Homo sapiens: one gene and its partners. The protein of the gene in region 1 interacts with the protein of each later gene in a pairwise test. Each region holds a gene or a part of one and is shown in the gene's direction. Other genes may lie near its edges. The genes, in order: EFHC1, MIIP, SPATA2 and TEX11.

Region 1 (4,405 bases):
GATCTTGGGACTTGTAAGCCTTCATAATTGTGTGAGCAATTTCTTATAACTCTCTCTTTCTCTCTCTCTACATATATATATATATATATATTTTATATGTACACATTCATACACACACACGCTTATATGTATACATATAGTATGTATATGTGTATATATATTATGTATATACATATATGTGCACACATCTCTACTAAAAATAGAAAAATTAGCCAGGTGTGGTGGCGTGTGCCTGTAGTCCCAGCCACTCGGGAGGCTTAAATGGGAGAATCACTTGAACCCTGGAGGCAGAGGTTGCAGTGAGCCAAGACCACGCCACTGCACTCCATCCAGCCTGGGTGACAGAGCAAGACTCCATCTCAAAAAAAAAAAGGTTAGAAAAATGCTGCTTTTAGAGAGCCTGGCCTTGAGAGAGGAAGGAAAGACTAGTTGCAGTTACTATTCTCTGGTGAGCTCTGACTGGCTTTTTACAAACAGGGCTTCTCTTTGGTTGAAGTCAGCCACTAAGTTCATCTTTAAACATGCTATCTCAAATTCCCCGAAGCCACCCAAAATGTGGTATGAATGAGGATAGAGTTACACAGAATTCAGACTGCTTTGCCCTCTCAGAACTTCTAGGGAACTTCCCTTGGTGTTTCCTTCCCTAACGAGCTCAGCCACTTGTAACCAGCTTATTGAAAGGGCTGTGAATGTATTATGTTGATTCCTTTTCTGTTCCAGGTTATTATCTTGGGAATAACCCATGTTTTGTTTTGTTTTACCCTCAGTCGCTCATAACTATTTAAAACAGTATCTCTTTCAAGTACAGATGCTCCTCTACTTATGGGGCTATGTCTCAATAAACTCACGTAAGTAAAAAATATCACAAGTTGAAAACACATTTAATAACCCTGATAAGCCCATTGTAAAGTAGGCAAATAAGTTGGACCATTGAAAGTTGGGGACTATCTGTATTTTAGAAGTTTTTTCAGCTTAAAAATTACCAAGCTCTATCCTACTTGGCCCAGCTCAGTCCTTCCCCCAGGCTTAGAAGCCTGTGGTAAAGAGTGTGTGTATACTGGGGTGATGATAGTGGTTTCTTCTTACTCCCTTCTTTCTGTCTTCTGCTCCCTTTGTTCCTATTCAGCCATGCTGCTGTTTCTAGCCCATGTAGGCTCTGGGAAAGGTTAAGCGGGTAGAAACCAGAGAAAAAGGGCAAAGTCTTATTTCTGTGGCTAGTAATGTCGTAATGTGGGGCCAGGTCTGAGTGACATGTGCCGAAAGGCTGACTCTTTCTCCCAGAGCACCTTTTCTCTCTTTTTGGATTCAGGGGGTACATGTGCAGGTTTGTTACATGAGTATATTGCACCCAGGTAGTGAGCATAGTGCCCAGTAAGTAGTTTTTCCACACATACCCCCTCCTTCCCTTCCCACTCTGGTAGTCCCCAGTGTCTATTGTTCCCATCATTATGTCTATGTGTATTCAATGTTTAGCTCCCACTTAGAAGTAAGAACATGCAATATTTGGTTTCCTATTCCTGCATCAATTCACTTTAGGATAATGGCCTCCAGCTGCATCCATGTTGCTGCAGAATACATGATTTCATTTTTTATGGCTGCGTAGTATTCCATGGTGTAGATATACTTCATTTAAAAAATCTAATCCACCATTGATTGGCACCTAGGTTGATTCCATGTCCTTTGCTCAGAGCCCCGTTTTGGTGAGTTCTTAGAACTCTTTCCAACCGGAAACTGCCCAGTGCACCACTCTCAGATGGACGGGACCCAGTCTGTACCTGATCACCCCGGCTCTAATGGTATGGTCTCCAAGGCTCCTTCTGATCTTCCCAGGAGGCCCTTTCAGGCTGACACACCTTCCAGGGTGTGCACTCTCGCCATGTTCTCACCCAGATGGCTCTCTTGGCTGTGTAATTAGGCAGCTCAATCCCTTTCCTTTAGACTGTTTCAGGGGAGAACCAGGTACCCCAAATCTTATGCTCTCCAAACTCCAGGGGACAGACACATGTCAAACCCTGAGTCTTTTAAAGTATACCCTCACTTAGCTTGCAGACCCAAGGCACTCCAGCCCCTTTCAAGAAGCTTGCACTTTCTGATATTTTCTCCATCACTCTTGCCTCCTGTGGTAGAGGAGCTTTGGGCTACTCCTTAACAAATCATTCATGGATCGGCAGCAAATCTGCAACATATGGATATATTTGCCAATTTTTGTCCTCAGCTTTGGGTCTCAGCCAAAATGGAGATTTAGGAAAGTCTCATTTAGCATCCTCTAGCCTGCTTTTGGCTGTTTTGTTTTGTTTTTGTGTTTGTTTTTTAGAGACAGGGTCTTACTCTGTTGCCAGACTGGAATGCGGTGGTGTGACCATAGCTCACTGCAGCCTCAAACTCCTGGGCTCATGCAATCCTCCTGCCTCAGCCTTCTGAGTAGCTAGGCCTGTAGTCTCAGAGGGAACTGTCTTCAATAAAGTTGGCACTGTCCACATACACTCCTTAAGTTTGCTGTCCACTTCTTGCCTTGCATCTCCTTTTAAGTTTACTTAAGACTGAGAAGCTGAGATCTGACAGCACCAACACAAGGTATAAAAGAGATTTCATGAAAGACCAAAGCCAGCAGGCCATTTCTGTGGTGTCCAAACACTCGCTGCTCACCTGTTTATACAAAGCAGCAAGTATAGGAGCCACAAACGTCAGAGCAAATCACTTTTTCTACTAAAATCCTGAATGGCAGTGCAGCCATTAGATGTCACTAATTACCTTATGCTACAGTCATAGCTGGCATGCATCTGGAGTGTCAGGTTCAGGTGGTGGAAGGGAGCTGAGCATTACCCTGTAGCAAGCAATATTGTAGGAAGCAGAAATGATCATCACTTCAAACTGGCCACCAGGGAGTTGAAAGATTCTAATACACACACACACCCACACACACACACACACAAAGAGAGAATGAGAATTATTAAGATTAGCACTGGTAGCTGAAGCTATCAGGTCTAACTGAAGCATTTGACTAAGACTGCTTATAGTGCTTACGGCTTTGGGACTAATAAAAATCTGCCTTGCGGGTAAAGATGGGCTGTGAGTTAGCCACTACTCAGAAACCTGGGCCTGTACCTTGTCTGCACCATCAGGGGGCCTTGAAAATACCATCCAATTAAGGTGTATCAAATCCATATCTATAGGCTTTGAGGGTATTTGGGACACATAGGTAGAGAAGACGTCTCTAAATGTTGTCCAGAGAATCCACTTGGTTAAGTGACTCCTGAGTATCCTGCTGGCACATAAGTTCATTTTAAAAAGCCAATATGAGTGCTTTATATGTACCATGAACTTAGCATTCAGTATCTCTAAATCTCTCACCATGACTCCCCACAAAACATGAAACCCTTTTGACACAGATGCACAAAAAGACTCGGAAGGGTTAACTGCTTGAGTTCACCTAGCTTCTCATGGCAGAGCAGGACCCAACTCTACAATGAAGCTTGCCATGCATCAGAACCACTCACCTTCACCTCAAGCAAACATTTCCTCTTTCTCACACCCCATGGGTGTCCTTGACTAACTGCCACCTGTAACTGCACTCATCTTTTGAGATCTTTTTCCAAAGAAAGATGGTTCTGGTAAACACAGCAAGCAGCTACAGCCAACAGCAGCCATGTAAGTGACACCAGCAATCCCCACTATTACTAATACTTGGATGTCTTCTAGTCAGCACCAACATATTTGTTGGCCTTTACACAAACGAAACCCCATTTCCTCCAAGCTAAATAACATCATAGTATAGTAGGCATCAAGGATGATGTGCTTGTTTCTGGAGCTTCCTACCCACAAACCCCATGTTAAGAAAACCTCTTTTCCACTTTACTATTAAAGAGTCAAATAAAAATGATGCTTATTGCTATCCAGCACTTGACATAACTGACTCTCCATCCTTAATTCCCTAATTCATATCACAATGGACAAATACGGGTCAAAATATATAAGAAATGACTAATATAGTGAAAAATAATAGACATGAGGGCTAAAATTCATTGCAAACTCCTTTAAGCAAACGTAAACATCCACGTTAAAAGCATCACTGTATAAAAGCACGTCAAGGAAATAATTATGAGACAATTCTGATAATTTTCTGCCTTTTATTGTTATTTCAGAAAATATTTGATCATTTGTTCCAAAATGTACATTTAAAAAATCCATACAAAACTGTAATTTGTTTTAAAACCAGACAGAAACAGTGGAAAAATGATTTTGAAAAAAAGTTCACCAAAAGCAAAAAGACACCCCTCCCCCCAACCCTTTTTTACATGAAAGCATAAATACGGCAGGTACAAATTTTCCTTGAGTTCCTTGTTGAAATTTGGTCCATATGAACAGGCTAGAGTAGAAAACAGACACTTTGTCCACATTTGCATTA
Region 2 (3,096 bases), on another chromosome or scaffold:
GCCACCGAATTAGGGGCTGCCCTGTGTGGCACCATCCCACCCTCCCCAGCAGTGCCCCTGTGCTGGTGGGACTCCATCCCAGCTCCTGAGGGCCCCAGGAGGATGTCCCTCCCCACCCCTTAGGGCGTGGGCCCCAGGTTCTGGGAGGAAAGGGGTTAGGAGGAAATGGGCCGAAGGGCTTCCCAGAGGGATTGGCAGCTTGTGTGGTTGGGGGCCGCTGAGGGCAGCACGGAGCCTGGGGACCTGGGTTCCTGGCTCAGGGAGAGCTGTGGCTTCTCATGGGCCTCGCAGGCGTGTACTGTTACCGTGTCAACCGGCGCCTGTTCCCGGTGCCTGTGGATCCCGGTACCCCCTGCCGCCTGTGCAGGACACCGCGAGACCAGCAGGGCCCTGGGACCCTGGCGCAGCCAGCGCACGTCAGGTGAGTGACCAGAGTATTGGGACACCTTGGGGGACAGAGCCTGAACCACTGGTTTTAAGAAAAGATGGGCCTGGGCGTGGGCCCCCAACCGCTGGGAGGCTCCTCAGGGGTCCCCCACTGCCCCCCTGCGCAGGGTGAGCATCCCGCTGTCGATCCTGGAGCCCCCGCACCGGTACCACATCCACCGGCGAAAGAGCTTTGACGCCTCTGACACACTGGCCCTGCCCCGGGTGAGCAGCCACGTGGGGCTGGATGGTGATGAGGGCGGGGCTGGCTCAGACTGGCCCAGATCCCCAGGGAGGGTCACAGAGCGAGACTGGGCTCGACAAGGGTGAGCGCCCAAGTCTCTGGAGCACAGCCTGGGCCTCTTCCATCACCCACACCTGTACCTAAGGGAGGTAGGACCCCCGCTCCACGTACCCCGGTGCTTCCAGGGTGATCTGCCTGCAGGCTGGCATGACATGAATGGGTCCTGTTTATTGCGCTTTTGTGTACTGCAGGCACAGTCCTTAGGGGGCTTATCTCATGGAGCCCCCACAGCAGCCAGGAGTGTAGGCACTGCTGTACCCCCACCCTGCAGGTGGGGAGACCGAAGCAGAGGGGGAGGCGCCTTGGTGGAGGAGCTGGGATTCGAACCTAGGTCTCTGTGCTGCTGCTGCTGCTTTTTTTTTTTTTTTTTTTTTTTGAGACCGAGTTTTGTTCTTACTGCCCAGGCTGGAGTGCATTGGCATGGTCTCAGCTCACTGCAGCCTCCACTGTAGTCCCAGCTACTTGGGAGGCTGAGGTGGGAGGATCGCTTGAACCTGGGAGGCAGAGGCTGCAGTGAGCTGAGATCTCGCCACTGCACTGCAGCCTGGGTGACAGAGTGAGACTCCATCTCAAAAAAAAAAAAAATGTCCTTTCCTGTGTCTCCAGGTCGGGATGGGGTGCCAGTGGCAACTCCCCCTGACTCCTAAATTGAGAGTAGGGCAGCTGGGGTCAGAGGAGGAGAAGGATGCAGAGGAAAGTCAGTTTGCTGGTCCGTAAAATGGACATAACAGCGCCATCCTCAGGGATGTTGGTGGTGAGGTGGGGCTGTTGAGTGAAGCAATCCATGCAGGTGCTTGGAGAGCCTACAGCAGGAAGTACCCTGTGAATGTCACTGTCACCGTCCTATCCTCCTCCCATTTCAGCTCTCAGGGCCCCAGGGATGGCTGGATCTGCCAGGATAAGAAAGGGGAGAGCTGGGGTAGTCTTGTGGGTAGACACAGGCCCTGCCTTGGTGGGGGCCTCCTTCCTAATGGGGGGCACAGTTCCTCCCTGATGGGGGTGTGCCCAGTCAGCGGGGAGCTTGTCCCAGGTCAGGCACTTTTAACTCCTTGCCTTCCACAGCACTGCCTGCTGGGCTGGGACATTTTTCCTCCGAAGTCTGAGAAAAGCTCAGCCCCCAGGAACCTGGACCTCTGGTCCTCTGTCTCCGCTGAGGCCCAGCACCAGAAGCTGTCCGGCACCAGCAGCCCTTTTCACCCGGTACGGTCCAGATCGCATCCTAGCCTGGGGTGCCCCCTAGAGGGACAGAGACCTCGCAGCAGGCCTGGGGACTGCAGAGCCTCCTGGGGGGTAGGATTGAGGTGGGGAGGATGGAGCCTGGGAGTGTCTCTCTGCAGGGTCCAGCCCTCCAGCCCTGACCCTAGCCATCCCTCGGAACTCCTCTGCTCCCTGCCGCCTGCCCTGCTCCACCCAGGAAGGCCACCCTGACTGCAAGATCCAGGAGGGAATGTGGCTGGAACTGGGGATGACCTGTCCCTTTCAAGTGGCCCCCCTGAGACTTCCCTATTCCCCATCCAGGCCTCACCAATGCAGATGCTGCCCCCGACCCCGACCTGGTCAGTGCCCCAGGTCCCTCGGCCCCACGTCCCACGGCAGAAGCCCTGAGGACTGACTCCTGGGGGAGAACAGCATTCCCGCCGCCTCCAGCCTCTCCCCTCTGGCAGGCGCACCCAGGAGATGGAATCCCCTGCCCGCCCAGCTCAGGCCCAGCTGTCCTAGGTTGGGCAGGTGGGTGGACCCAAGCTTGTCTGCTGCCTGAGTTCCAGAGAGGGAGGACCCTGGGGTGGAGGGTGAGGGATTCTGTGGAAGTTTGTAAATAAAGCTCAGTGCTCTGCAGCTCAAGTCCCACGTGTGCTGGTTCCATCCTGCTAATGCACTTGAGGCCCAGAAGGCACTCTGGCCTCTCAGCCTGCCCTCCTGGCACCTGTGGAAGGAAGATACTGCAACCACTGGGACTAGGCAGTGTGTGTCCGTCACCATGAGGGTGGCTCCTTCCGCAGATCCCCAGCTCTGGGTAGTGGCCTCCACCAGATGGGGGAGGGGGGGCCCCTGGGCAGGCTGGGCCAAGGTTATTAAAAAGTCATTTTAGCGAGGGCCTCCGCTGAAGCCGTGAGTCGTGTTGAGTGACTGAGCTCTCTCCTTCCTGGTCCCAGAACCGGGATCCATTGATAGAAGGGCTCTCTGGAAGTCCCTGGGGTCACATGGCTCCTCCACCCAGCCATGGGAGCCGCAGGTCATTCAGAGCCCCAGCAGGGACAGATGAGGAAACAGGGCTGGGCGGTGAGTTGGAGGCAAGGTTAGCAGAGAGCCCAGATGTCCAGTCTGGGAGAGTAGGCAGTGCCCTGTCCTTCACTCACCTCTTGTAT
Region 3 (7,048 bases), on another chromosome or scaffold:
TCAGACTACCAAAAAACAGACCCTGGGGCCAGAGGCGTGATGGCAGCTTCTCTTAGATAAGTCAAGAATGGTAAATGCATGTGTGACTATCCTCTCCAGTGGTGCAATACATTTATTTATGTAGAGATGGAGTTTTTGCTCTGTTGCCCAGGCTGGAGTGCAATGGCACGATCTCAGCTCACTGCAACCTCTCCCTCCTGGGTTCACGCCATTCTCCTGCCTCAGCCTCCTGAGTAGCTGGGATTACAGGTGTTCGTCCAGCTAATTTTTGTATTTTTAGTAGAGGCGGGGTTTCGCTATGTTGGCCAGGCTAGTCTCAAACTCCCAATCTCAGGCGATCCACCCACCTTGGCCTCCCAGAGTTGTAGGATTACAGGCGTGAGCCACCGCGCCTGGCCTGCATTTTTATTTTTTAAGAGAATATACATTTTAAATTGTTTATTTTTTTATGGACAGAACAGTATGAAGTTAGAGCACATACCTACTTTGATACTAGGTGGTATGCTCTTCCAGCTAGAGCTGCAGGCAGGATGTGTCTCCTTTATTGCTGTCCTCTACCTGTCCCACCCATCCCCATTCCCCGACTGGGTCCAGCTCAGGCAGAGGGTGGGGGCTGCAGAAATGCTTGCTGGACATGGGAATCGTGGGGTGGTGAGAGGAATACAGGTTCCAAGTCAGAAGGCCAGGCTTGGATTATCGGGTCCATCATCTGCTAACCTTGAGCTACTTGTCGTACCTCATGCCATCTTTCTGAGCCCGTTTCTTTGCTCTCCAGCTGATCTCCCAGGATTCTTGGGAGGTACCAATGAGAAACTAAAGTGATGGCATCGTGAATGCAGACATCCTTTGCAGCATCCATTTCTCTTTTTCTCTTTTCTTTTTCTTTTTCTTTTTTTTTTTTTAGAGACGGAGTCTCGCTCTGTTGCCCAGGCTGGAGTGCAATGGGGCGATCTCGGCTCACTGCAGCCTCCGCCTCCTGGGTTCTAGCAATTCTCCTGCCTCAGCCTCCCGAGTAGCTGTGATTACAGGCGCATGCTGCCACACCCGTCTAATTTTTTTTTAAATTTTGGTAGAGACGGGGTTTCACCGTGTTGCCCAGGCTGGTCTCGAACTCCTGAGCTCAGGCAATCCACCTGCCTCGGCCTCCCAAAGTGCTAAGATTACAGGCGTGAGCCACCGTGCCTGGCTGCAGCATCCATTTCACCTACTTTATCAAGCACAGGCAGGCTCTGTGTTAGGCATCGTGGTGAACAACACAGACATGGTCCTTGCCTTTATGGAGCTTACCACGAGCTTACCAGCTTACCAGGGAGGGTGAGGGGTGGACAAAGAGAGGAAGCTAATGAATGAATGAAGTTGATAGTTTCAGATTGTGGTTATCGTAGGAGAATGTGACAGTGTGGAACTGGGAAGGTGAGATAGGGTGGTACCTCTAGAGGCTGATGTTTGAGCTGAGGCCTGAATGATGAGAATCTTCCTGAAGCAGAATTTTATCCCAAGTGGATTTTGTTTTCTTTTGTAAAGACAGGGTATTGCTATGTTGCCCAGGCTGGTCTCGAACTCCTGGCCTTGAGCAATCCTCCTGCCTTGGCCTTCCAAAGTTTAGGGATTACAGGCGTGAGCCCCCGCACCTGGCCCCTAAATGGATGTGTTTGCCTCCTGTACTCCTCAGCCTTATTTGTCACTGTAGCACTGGGCTCCCTCAGCAGTGCAGTGTGTTGGAGACAGTGGCCTCTCTGTGTCCCTAGTTTTGCTACACATCCCACCTCTCACCGCACCATTAGTACTCCCAGGAGTCTCCTCCTGGGGACAAAATCTGTGGAGGAGCCAGACTACTGGCTCTTTGAGATGAGGATGATTTTGTTGACCTCCTGATAGTTGCTGGGCTCGTAGGACCTTCCTAGCTGAACACAGGTCTGCTAAAGGAGTCCCCCACATGCCAGGCCCAGTCCTGCTGCAGCTTCTCTCAGCCCCTTGCTGTCTCCCACACTCAGCAGACATGAAGCACACAGGTCACCTTACTGAGCAAGATGGTCACAGGCCTGCACCCACGGAGCTTCTGGGCAGGAGCAGCAGGACCAGAGCATGTGAAAATGCACATCTACCACCCAGTCAGAGGTATTTGCCCCACTCAGAGAAGGCCTGTCCACTTAGGGGTACAGCACCTTCAGACAACAGCAATGGCCATCAAGGACTTCCCGGAGCCGGCTCTCTGAGCAGCTTCATATTCCATCATGCATAATCCTCTCGCCAGCTCTGGACAGAGGCGCTATTATTAACCCCGTTTTATAGGAGAAAACCGACACCCAGGGAGGTGGAGCAATTTGCCCAAGTAACCTGGAGAAGCAGCCCTGGCCTCACTCGCAGGTGCCTGGCCTTGGACCCCGTGTCCGTGACCCTGCGCGTGTTGTCTCCCCTGGCCCTGGCAGTGTCCCTCCATTAATCCGGATTCGCTCCCAGCGTTGTGGTGACAAGAATATTGCTGGATCTGTGCCTGTTCTACTAACAAGTGGCTAAGCAGATGACAAGATTGTGTAAAGCCTGTGTCCCAGCTCAGAACATTCTATCCTCTCCCAACAGGGGGCTGTCAAGCGCTCTGGTGATAAAGGGGCCGCAGGCTGTCAAAGGCCGGTAACAGCACTCCAGGGGCCGGTAGCCACGGTGGCCTCTTTTGAAAATTGTAAATAAGACCGTATCTCTCTCCCCTCGCTGTAAACTCTTCAGTGGCTTCACGTGGCTCTTTGTATAAAATATCGAATTCTGAATGTGCTCTTGCGGCCTTGGGGCTGAGGGTCCCGCTGATGCTGGCATCTGCCTCTCCTCATGCCCCTGCCCTCGTGGCCTCGGCCTCACTGGCTGCAGTTCTGTTACTGTTCCAGGCTTCCTGCCTCAGGAAAGCAGGGTGTGGTGGGTAAGGGCATGGACTTTGGAGCCAGATTGCCTGGGTTCTGAGCTCAGCTTCTCTGCCTCCTGAGAGTTCTATAACCTTGGACAGTTTCTTTTTCTTAAAAATTTTTTTGTATTTTTGTAGAGACGTGGTTTCACCGTGTTTCCCAGGCTGGTCTCGAGCTCCTGGACTCAAGCCATCCTCCCCCGTCAGCCTCCCAAAGTTCAGGAATTACAGGTGTGAGCCACTGTGCCTGGCCTACCTTGAGCAGTTTCTAATGTCTGTGTCTCAGTTTGCACATGGTCCACTGGGGCTGCCTGTAGCGTCTCTCTCCTAGGATTGTTTAAGAAGAAAAAGTGAGGCTGGGTATGGGGGCTCACACCTGTAATCCTGGCACTTTGGGAGGCCAAGGCTGGTGGATCACTTGAGGTCAGGAGTTCGAGACCAGCCTGGCCAACATGGTGAAACCCCATCTTGACTAAAAATACAAAAATTAACCAGGCGTGGTGGCAGGTGCCTGTAATCCCAGCTACTTGGGAGGCTGAGGCAGGAGAATCGCTTGAACCCGGGAGGCGGAGGTTGCAGTGAGCTGAGATCACGCCACTGCACTCCAGCCTGGGCTACAGAGCAAGGATCCATCTCAAAAAAAAAGTAAGCGAGTTAGTGTGTGTGAAGCTCGTCACGTGTCTGGAGCCTCTGGTACTATTAGCTCAGGGCCTTCCTCTACTGCGACTCCTTCCCCGGCCTCTTGGCCTGGCAGACTCCTCATCCTTCAGGTCTGTTGCTGTCTCAAGAGGGCTTTCCTAAACTCGCCCTTCCCCAACGAAACCAGGACAGGAGCTCCTGCTGTACTCACCCGAATTTCTCTTTCAGGAATATTAATCGTATTTTTCATTTGTGAGCACAACAAAGTCAAGGTCCATCTCTCTCTGGCCTCTGTTGTAACCCTGCTTGTAGTACATGCTCTGTAGTGTGCTGCTGGGGTCCAGTGTAGCCCAGGCCAGTTCTGCTGTTCATTTTGCCTCAGCGACCTGAAGCCGAAGCGCGACCGTATCGAGGAATGACATGCTTCTTGTTCCCCTCCTTCCAGAGCACTCCGCTGGTCCAGGCGGCAACATGTCCATGCTTTTAGTGATGTCCCTGCCTCTAATCCAGAAGCCATGGAGGAGATAAGGTAGCCCCCCTCGATCGGATGGGGAAGCCCAGTTCAATGGATACTAAATTCAAGGATGACTTATTTCGGAAGTACGTGCAGTTCCATGAGAGCAAAGTGGATACCACCACCAGCAGGCAGCGGCCTGGCAGCGATGAGTGCCTGCGGGTGGCAGCCTCAACCCTGCTCAGCCTGCACAAGGTGGATCCCTTTTATCGATTCCGGCTGATCCAGTTCTATGAGGTGGTGGAGAGCTCCTTGCGCTCGCTCAGCTCCTCTAGCCTGCGGGCTCTGCACGGCGCCTTCAGCATGCTGGAGACGGTGGGCATCAACCTCTTCCTCTACCCGTGGAAGAAGGAATTCAGAAGCATCAAGGTGAGGTCCTGGAGCAGCCTCCATACAGGCCCTCCTTCTCTCTTCCTGCCCCTGGCAGTCCCTCCTGAGAGGCTATGCCAGTCTGATCCCATCCATCCTGTGCTCTCAGATCCTTCCGGGCTCCGAACCTTCCCCGTCTCTCCAGCATCACCTCTGAACCGTTTCTGGCCCGGCTGCCACACCTTAAGCAGAGAAGCTGGGAAGGCAGGGGCAGCCAGGTTATGCAGGGTCTTGTGGCCCAGGGCAAGGCTTGGATTTGTTCTGAGTAGGCGGGGAAGGAGGCAGTGTGGGATCTGGCTTGCATCTGAAGAGGGTCATTCTGGCTGTGGTATGGGAAGTAGGCTGTAGAGGGGTGGGGGGAGGTGGGAGGGATGGGGAGAGCAGTTAGGAAGCTTCTCAGCGGTCCCAGCAAGCTGAGGGGTGTTCTGTACTAAGTGGGAACAGTAGAGGAGGAGGGGGAATTGAGAGAGGGATCCTGAATCAGACCACGCGGGGGATGGCACAGGAGAGCTGTCACCTAGCCAGGCTTCTTCATTCTGCCATGGGAGGAGTGGTAATCAAGAGAGGGGATGGCACAGGAGAGCTGTCACCTAGCCAGGCCCTTCAGTCTGCCGTGTTACTCAGCCCCTCATGGAAATACCAGAGAGGAACGTTCTGATTGTCACCGCGTTCTGCCTGTAATCTGGCCCCTTTATTCAGCCATGTTTGCCCAGGCTCTCTCTTCATATGGAGTAGAGTCTTCGTGCCCCACTAGGAAGCGAGAGGTTTTGCTTCCTGTGTTTAACAAAGTAGCTGCTGCCAGGCGCGGTGGCTCACACCTGTAATCCCAGCACATTGGGAGGCCGAGGCGGGTGGATCACGAGGTCAGGAGTTTGAGACCAGCTTGACCAGCACGGTGAAACCCCATCTCTACTAAAAACAGAAAAATTAGCTGGGCGTGTTGGCGGGCGCCTGTAATCCCAGCTATTCAGGAGGCTGAGGCAGGAGAATCGCTTGAACCCAGGAGGCGGAGGTTGCAGTGAGCCAAGATCGCACCACCGCACTCCACCCTGGGCAAAAGAGCGAGACTCCGTCTCAAACAAAAGAAAGGAGCTGCTGGGTCATTTCCTTGCACAATTCCTGAGTGCTTAGCAAGCCCCAGCTCCTGCGTCTTCTGCCTCCCGCAGGGTGAGGCTGTCGAGATCCTTCCCTGCCCTGCCCTCTCCCCGCCGCCCCACTTCAGAGCTGGACATCCTTTGCTTTGACATAGTCTCTGTCTTGTGTCTCTGACAGAAAACCCCACCTTTCTTTTCTACTCCCTCCCTTCTAGACCTACACGGGCCCTTTTGTTTATTATGTCAAGTCGACATTACTGGAAGAGGACATCCGAGCCATCCTGAGCTGCATGGGCTACACACCTGAGCTGGGCACTGCATACAAGCTCAGAGAGCTCGTGGAGACCCTCCAGGTGAAGATGGTCTCCTTTGAGCTCTTTCTGGCCAAAGTCGAGTGTGAGCAGATGCTAGAAATCCACTCACAAGTGAAGGACAAGGGCTACTCCGAGCTGGACATTGTGAGCGAGCGCAAGAGCAGTGCAGAGGATGTGCGCGGCTGCTCGGACGCCCTGCGGCGGCGGGCAGAGGGCCGGGAGCACCTGACGGCCTCCATGTCACGAGTGGCACTCCAGAAGTCGGCCAGCGAGCGGGCGGCCAAGGACTACTACAAGCCCCGCGTGACCAAGCCCTCGAGGTCAGTGGATGCCTATGACAGCTACTGGGAGAGCCGGAAGCCACCCCTGAAGGCCTCATTGAGTCTTCGGAAGGAGCCTGTGGCAACGGATGTGGGGGACGACCTCAAGGATGAGATCATCCGCCCATCCCCTTCGCTGCTGACCATGGCCAGCTCCCCCCACGGCAGCCCGGATGTGCTTCCACCCGCCTCCCCCAGCAACGGCCCGGCCCTGCTGCGCGGTACCTACTTCTCCACTCAGGATGACGTGGATCTGTACACAGACTCTGAACCCAGGGCCACCTACCGTCGGCAGGATGCTCTGCGGCCGGATGTGTGGCTGCTCAGAAACGATGCCCACTCCCTCTACCACAAGCGCTCGCCCCCTGCCAAAGAGTCCGCCCTCTCCAAGTGCCAAAGCTGCGGGCTGTCCTGCAGCTCCTCCCTCTGCCAGCGCTGTGACAGCCTGCTCACCTGTCCTCCAGCTTCCAAGCCCAGCGCCTTCCCCAGCAAGGCCTCGACTCATGACAGCCTGGCCCACGGGGCATCTCTGCGGGAGAAGTACCCAGGCCAGACTCAGGGCCTCGACCGCCTCCCGCACCTTCACTCCAAATCCAAGCCCTCCACCACGCCCACTTCCCGCTGTGGCTTCTGCAACCGCCCAGGCGCCACCAACACCTGCACCCAGTGTTCAAAAGTCTCATGTGACGCCTGCCTCAGCGCTTACCATTATGACCCCTGCTACAAAAAGAGTGAGCTGCACAAGTTCATGCCCAACAACCAGCTGAACTACAAGTCCACCCAGCTCTCCCATCTCGTGTACAGATAGACCGGCCTCGCCCCTTCCAGCTCCAAGGGCTACATCAACCGACCTTTCGGGTTTCACGGTGAAGAAGTACTAACGCATTGATCTCAGAGGCGGAGGC
Region 4 (6,320 bases), on another chromosome or scaffold:
AAAGGACAGGCATTTGTGCTCCAGAATACCTACGATTCAGTTAGAGATCTACGTGGCTGCCATATGTATTAAGATGTTGAGGACAGAGAAAACTGGTTTAAAATATGTGGCCCCAAAAACCATCAGAGCAAACACCTCAGTTTGCTGACATTGATTTGTATTACACGTAGGCAAGTCCATGTGGCTTTCAGGTCAGTAGCTGTGTGGATGCATTTCTTTATTGAGGATTAATGATTTTCATAAGCAATGCTGGGCATGAGGGCAACTAATGCAAATTAAAATAAAACTCGAGTGTTCCCTAACTCATTGGATGACACCATCATTCTTCTGGTTGCCCAAGCCAGACATCTAGGAGTCATCCTCAGCACCTCCCTCACTCCCACTTCTAATCTATCACCAAGTACTATCAATCAATTTGACCTCCCAAATATCTCTCAAATTCATCTACTTCCTCCTATCTTTCACCATCAGTAACCTAGTTCAAGTTACACACCTTTTATCTTAGCTAGTTTAGTGATCTCAGGAACCTTTTAACTGGCCTCACATCTACTCTTGCTTTCTTCCTTCCTTTCTTTGCCCAGCAACCAAGGTGATCTTTTACTTTTTTTTTTTTTTTTTTTTTTTTTTGAGATGGAGTCTCGCTCTGTCACCAGGCTGGAGTGCAGTGGTGCAATCTCGGCTCACTGCAACCTCTGCCTCCCAGGTTCAAGCGATTCCCCTGCCTCAGCCTCCCCAGTAGCTGGGACTACAGGCACCCGCCACCACGCCCAGCTAATTTTTGTATTTTTAGTAGAGATGAGGTTTCACCATGTTGGCCAGGATGGTCTCGATCTCTTGACCTCGTGATCCGCCCACCTCGGCCTCCCAAAGTCCTGGGATTACAGGTGTGATCCACCATGCCCAGCCAATCTTTTACATTTTTGAGTATGCATGACCTTTTGAAATCCTCTTTAGTAGTTTCCCATTGCTCTTAAAATAAAGACCAAAATCTTGAATGTGGTATACAAGATCCTACTAACCTATCTGTCCTCATCTTGAGCCACTCTTTCCCTCACATTCTGCACTGTCAGCCACACTTTACAAGACCACAAATTACCACCGTCTAGGCAAATATGATGGTCTCTTTTCCCTGGCCTTCGTTATTGACCACTGCCTCCTTATTGAAATTCTGTTTTCCTTTGTCCTTTATTTTCTCGCCACTCCTCTGCGTTCTTTTCCCTCTTACCACCCAACTATGAACATTTCCAATATTCTCTACTCTTTGCTACTCTGTATTCTGTACTCTGTCCTTTAAGTGAATTAATACACTTTAACTATTACCTGAGTTCCAATCCATATCTGCAACAGCCTGCTTATCTCCAGAGTTACCTCAAGCCAACTTGTTTAAAATAGAACTTATTGTTGTCCCTTATCCCCAGAAACATGTCCTTCAATTTTTTCTTTCAGTGATGCCAGCATTCTTTCAGCCATTCAAACTACATACCTTAGAGCCATTTTCACTTGACCTGTCATTCCCCATATCAAATCAGTTACCAAATTCTATTGATTCTTCCTTTAAATGATTCTTACATCCGTCCATCTAAATTGTCACTATTTTAGTTCTGACCCTCATCACTTCATTCTTAGATCACACAACTCCTTTTATTTTATTTTATTTTATTTTTATTTATTTATTTTTTTGAGACAGAATCTCGCCCTGTCGCCCAGGCTGGAGTGCAGTGGTGCGATCTTGGCTCACTTCAAGCTCCGCCTCCCAGGTTCACGCCATTCTCCTGCCTCAGCCTTCCGAGTAGCTGGGACTACAGGTGCCTGCCACCACGCCCGGCTAATGTTTTGTATTTTTAGTAGAGACAGGATTTCACCATGTTAGCCAAGATGTTCTTGATCTCCTGACCTCGTGATCTGCCTGCCTCGGCCTCCCAAAGTGCTGGGATTACAGGCACAAGCCACCACGCCGGGCCTTTATTTTATTTTTTGAGACGGAGTTTGGAGTTTCACTCTTGTTGCCCAGGCTGGAGTGCAATGGCACAATCTTGGCTCACCACAACCTCCGCCTCCTGGGTTCAAGCGATTCTCCTGCCTCAGCCTCCCGAGTAGCTGGGATTACAGGCATGTGCCATCACACCCAGCTATTTTGTATTTTTAGTAGAGACGGGGTTTCTCCATGTTGGTCAGGCTGGTCTCGAACTCCCGACCTCAGGTGATCTGCCCGCCTTGGCCTCCCAAAGTGCTGGGATTACAGGTGTGAGCCACTGCGCCAGGCCATAACTCCCTTTAAACACGTCTCCCTGTCTGTGTTTTCCCACACGGAGGTCTGTTCTAAACACCACTGGCATTTCTATCTTATTAAAACTACACTTTCATCATATCACTCTCCTTCTCAAAAAGTTTCAGTGCCTTCCCGTTGCCAGCAGGATAAATTTCAAAATCTGAAGCCTGTAATGCAAAAACCCTTAACACTCCAGCCCACAAGATGTTAGCAAACGTTCCACATACCCTGGATTAGACAAAGTTCCATGGTTTCTTTACTGTAAAACTTCCCTAAACTTTCAGTGAACTAGTGTGCATTATAATGCTCCAAAAGGGTGATATATAGAATGCGGCATTTCCAAAATGTATTTGACTAAAGAACTCTATTTTCATAGACCATCTGTTAACATTTCTCATGACACTAGTGTTCTGAGGAAGAACATTGAGGAAAGGCTTAGGAAGCTCCATCCTACATTTCCAGTCTTATTTCCCGTTAACTCCTCTACATAAATCGTCTGCTTAGGCCAAAGAACTCTTGGTCTTCCTAAGACATGCTTGTTCTCAAGTACAATCCAAGTCTTCATTTATTCTGTTCTACCCACATGGAATGCCCTTCTCTTTCTCTGAATATCTATATTTTTCTTTTTAATTGAGATTTAGTTCATATATCATAAAACTCACATTAAGGTATACAGTTCAGTGAGTTATAGTATATTCAAAAGATTGTGCAACCATCACCATTATCTAATTCTAGAACATTTTCATCATCCCCAAAAGAAACTCTATACCCATTAGCAGTCCTTCCCCATACCTCCCTTCCCCAGCCCCTGGCAACCACAAATCTCCTTTCTGTCTCTATGGCTTTGCCTATTCTGCACATTTCATATAATCTCTGTATATGTAGATCCTACTCATCTACCCTAAGATCATGTTTGTTTGTTTGTTTAAGTCATTTTTTTCATTCACAACATTAAAATCACAACACTCATACCCTGTATCAGACACTGTGCCAAGCAAAGGCAAATGTCATTTTACCTTCAAGGGGCTCCCTGCCTAGTGGGGGAGACAGGCAGTACAGTGTTCAAAGTACTATTATGGTGCTGTGAACAAAGTAGCAGAGGGGCAAAGAGGTTTGAGCAAGAAATTGTGGAGAGCCAGGGAAATCCTCACTGAGGAGGTGGCATCTGACTGGATATTGATTCATTTGTTCATTCATTCATTCAGCAAACATCTGTTGTGCCTCTTATGTGCCAGGCACAGTGCTGGACTCTGAAGATACAAAAATGCACAGGAAAAATTCCCTGTACCTCAAGGAACTCAATAGTCTGGAGGAGATAAATACATAGCATTTCAAAACAATATAACATAAGTTATATTAGAGGAATGGAAAGCTCACTGTGGGAACAGACAACTAACTGTTCTTGTGAATTTGAAGAAAAAGTATAAGTCTATGAAGTGGACAAGGATGAGGAGTAGTGTTTCAAGCAGAGACTAGACCGCCTCTGACTGGAATATCCTAGTGCTCATTTCTTTAACTGAATGAGAGCACCTAATGTTTGTGTCTCTTAATCACATACCTTGTGAAGTCGTCTTTACATGTGGATGCCTTGTGTCCCCAAAAGCATTGCACAACCTTTAGGATAAAAGTTTTGTCTTTTCCCTCTTAGTGCCCTCATTATCACAGTGTTTTATGTATAGTAATTTCTTTTTGGATCCAAATGAATGAAAGGATGACAGCTGAGACAGCATTCTTGACACTCTCAAAAAGCTGCTGCCTAATGTGTCTCCTATCACATTTCTCCCTTCTGGGGCTTTAACATGAATGCTTTCTTTGTGTTCCATCTCCTATGCAAGAACCAAGAAAGTAGCTTCTTAGACTAATACTTTTCACTATTGCAAAGTATTGTGAAGAAGCAAATATAATCTTGTGATTAGTCATGTTAAAGACCACTGATAAGGCTAAGGGACCATCTTAGAAATGTGTGCTGTGTTCATAGCTAGGTAGATATCGTTAACTCTGAAGATGAATATAATTTCTACTCCAAATATGGACTAATTCTGGTGACAGAAATTAAGAAATTCAATAAAACTGCTTCTTGACAACCTTATCCGAAAAGTAGAGGTAGGTATTAGGGAGGTAATTGACTGAAGACAGAATCAAGGGAAGCCCCAAACAGTATGCAAGTTTTTCTCGTGCCTCAGGAAGATTAGGAATCTTTCTAATTCTTTCCTTCAGTCAGAGAGGACCTCGGTTTACGTCTCTTCATGAGATCTTGCTATGGAACATTCTACAGCTGACAAACCTTCAAAGTGCTCTCCTCCTGCACTCTCCAGGAGCACAGACCTTCCTAAACATCAGCAGAGCTCCTATTGTTTGTTTAGTAATAAAGGGACATAGCATGGATACAGGTAGTGCCACAATGAACTGTGACAGTAATAACTGCAAAATTTCTGTTCTTGGATTATAGAAAGACTACCCAGAAATGGAGATTCTCTGGCTGATGGTCAAGTCCTGGAATACCGGAGTACTTATGTTTAGCAGGAGCAAGTATGCATCTGCTGAAAAGTGGTGTGGCCTGGCCTTGCGTTTCCTTAACCACCTTACCTCCTTCAAGGAAAGCTATGAAACTCAGGTAAGGAGGGAGAGGGCTAGGGCAGATGACATGACCTAGGGGGCAAGAGGTTATGGCTGGGCTCTCCACAAGGACTCAACCCCATCCTCCTTGGCTAGGAAAGGATCTTGCTCATTGTTCCTCTCAATGGTTCCACATAACTTCAAGAATCAGGAGACCATAAACAGTAATTCCTTAGAGCAAAAACCAAGAAGGACAGAGAACAGGGGGAAATTTAAGGATAGCAAATGGAATCTAATTAAGAGGAATGCCAAGAGTGAGCTCTGGAAAGATGCATCACTGTCAGTGCCAGTGCATGTGGGAAAGGACTGGCCTCTGCTCAAAGCAATAACTGTTGAAAAAGGCATTTTCTCCAGGAACTATTCTCAGTTGCAGAGTTCTGGGCCATTGGCTAACCAGGAGAGGTTTGGTAGAGAAAAAGCCTTGTTACCAAATAAGAGCAAAGGATATTTTATAGTTAAGTATCTTCTCCCTTATAATAGGGGATTCCTTTTCCTCAAGAGAGGACTGTATTTTCTCCCCAAATCTGAGATGCTTCAGATCTCCGAAGGTAACGGTTAGACTTTCATGCCATCACCGTGGGTCTGGGAAGCTTTCCCACATTTCTTTTTCCCCTCAAGAAATCTATTTGTTGTTCTCTTTCCCAGATGAATATGCTGTATAGTCAGCTTGTGGAAGCATTGAGTAACAACAAGGGCCCAGTTTTTCATGAACATGGCTACTGGAGCAAGTCAGATTAGGCAAGCTCATGGCCACATGAAGAAGATACATTGTCCCGAGATGCTGACTGTTTAAATTTTTGCCAGAGTTTCTCTTGAGCTTTTGTTTCTGTTTGCTCAGACCCTGTTTTCATGTTGTTGAATAAACTTTCTAAAATAAAAGCATGCTGAATTTACCTTGGTGACCAGCTCATTTCTGGGGGACAAATGAATTTTCCAAAGTGCTAAGGATGATATTGAAATAGACCATGTGAGAGCAAGATGGTTTATGCCCCATCTGAACAAAAGAGAATGTTCATCCCAGTTCAACACAGATTGCATTTTATTCCCAAAGTGCTCAAATTCCTAATCCCTGAAGATATCAAAGAATCCCAGACTCTTATTTGGAAGGACCTTAGTGGTCACCAGGGCCAGCATTTATCTGATTCATGAAATCTCTCTCTAACATCCTTGAGAATCTGTTGCCCAGTTTCTAACAGAACTTATTCCAGGCCAGGCGTAGTGGCTTGTGCCTGTAATCCCAGCACTTTGGGAGGCTGAGGTGGGCAGATCACTTGAGGCCAGGAGTTCAAGACCAGCCTGGCCAACATGGCAAAACTCCATCTCTACTAAAAATACAAAAAAAAAAAAAATAGCCAGGCATGGTGGCGCGTGCCTGTAGTCCCAGCTACTCGGGAGGCTGAGGCAGGAGAATCGTTTGAACCCAGGAGACAGAGGT

The links.
Region 2: the proteins of EFHC1 (region 1) and MIIP interact in binary tests that used the Homo sapiens proteins (3 or more experiments, as listed by UniProt).
Region 3: the proteins of EFHC1 (region 1) and SPATA2 interact in binary tests that used the Homo sapiens proteins (3 or more experiments, as listed by UniProt).
Region 4: the proteins of EFHC1 (region 1) and TEX11 interact in binary tests that used the Homo sapiens proteins (3 or more experiments, as listed by UniProt).

Annotation. Positions count from the first base shown.
Region 1 is NC_000006.12:52,493,295-52,497,699, forward strand, and holds the end of EFHC1 (EF-hand domain-containing protein 1), read left to right. Parts: 3' UTR 1-3,904; downstream 3,905-4,405. UniProt on the Homo sapiens protein: Microtubule inner protein (MIP) part of the dynein-decorated doublet microtubules (DMTs) in cilia axoneme, which is required for motile cilia beating.
Region 2 is NC_000001.11:12,029,474-12,032,569, forward strand, and holds the end of MIIP (migration and invasion-inhibitory protein), read left to right. Parts: intron 1-291; coding exon 292-421; intron 422-554; coding exon 555-651; intron 652-1,792; coding exon 1,793-1,930; intron 1,931-2,067; coding exon of another isoform or gene 2,068-2,088; exon of another isoform or gene 2,089-2,248; coding exon 2,249-2,335; 3' UTR 2,336-2,572; downstream 2,573-3,096.
Region 3 is NC_000020.11:49,905,522-49,912,569, reverse strand, and holds part of SPATA2 (spermatogenesis-associated protein 2), read left to right. Parts: exon of another isoform or gene 1-2,118; intron 2,119-3,977; 5' UTR 3,978-4,079; coding exon 4,080-4,415; intron 4,416-5,724; coding exon 5,725-6,951; 3' UTR 6,952-7,048.
Region 4 is NC_000023.11:70,528,398-70,534,717, reverse strand, and holds the end of TEX11 (testis-expressed protein 11), read left to right. Parts: intron 1-4,718; coding exon 4,719-4,883; intron 4,884-5,530; coding exon 5,531-5,623; 3' UTR 5,624-5,778; downstream 5,779-6,320. UniProt on the Homo sapiens protein: Regulator of crossing-over during meiosis. Involved in initiation and/or maintenance of chromosome synapsis and formation of crossovers.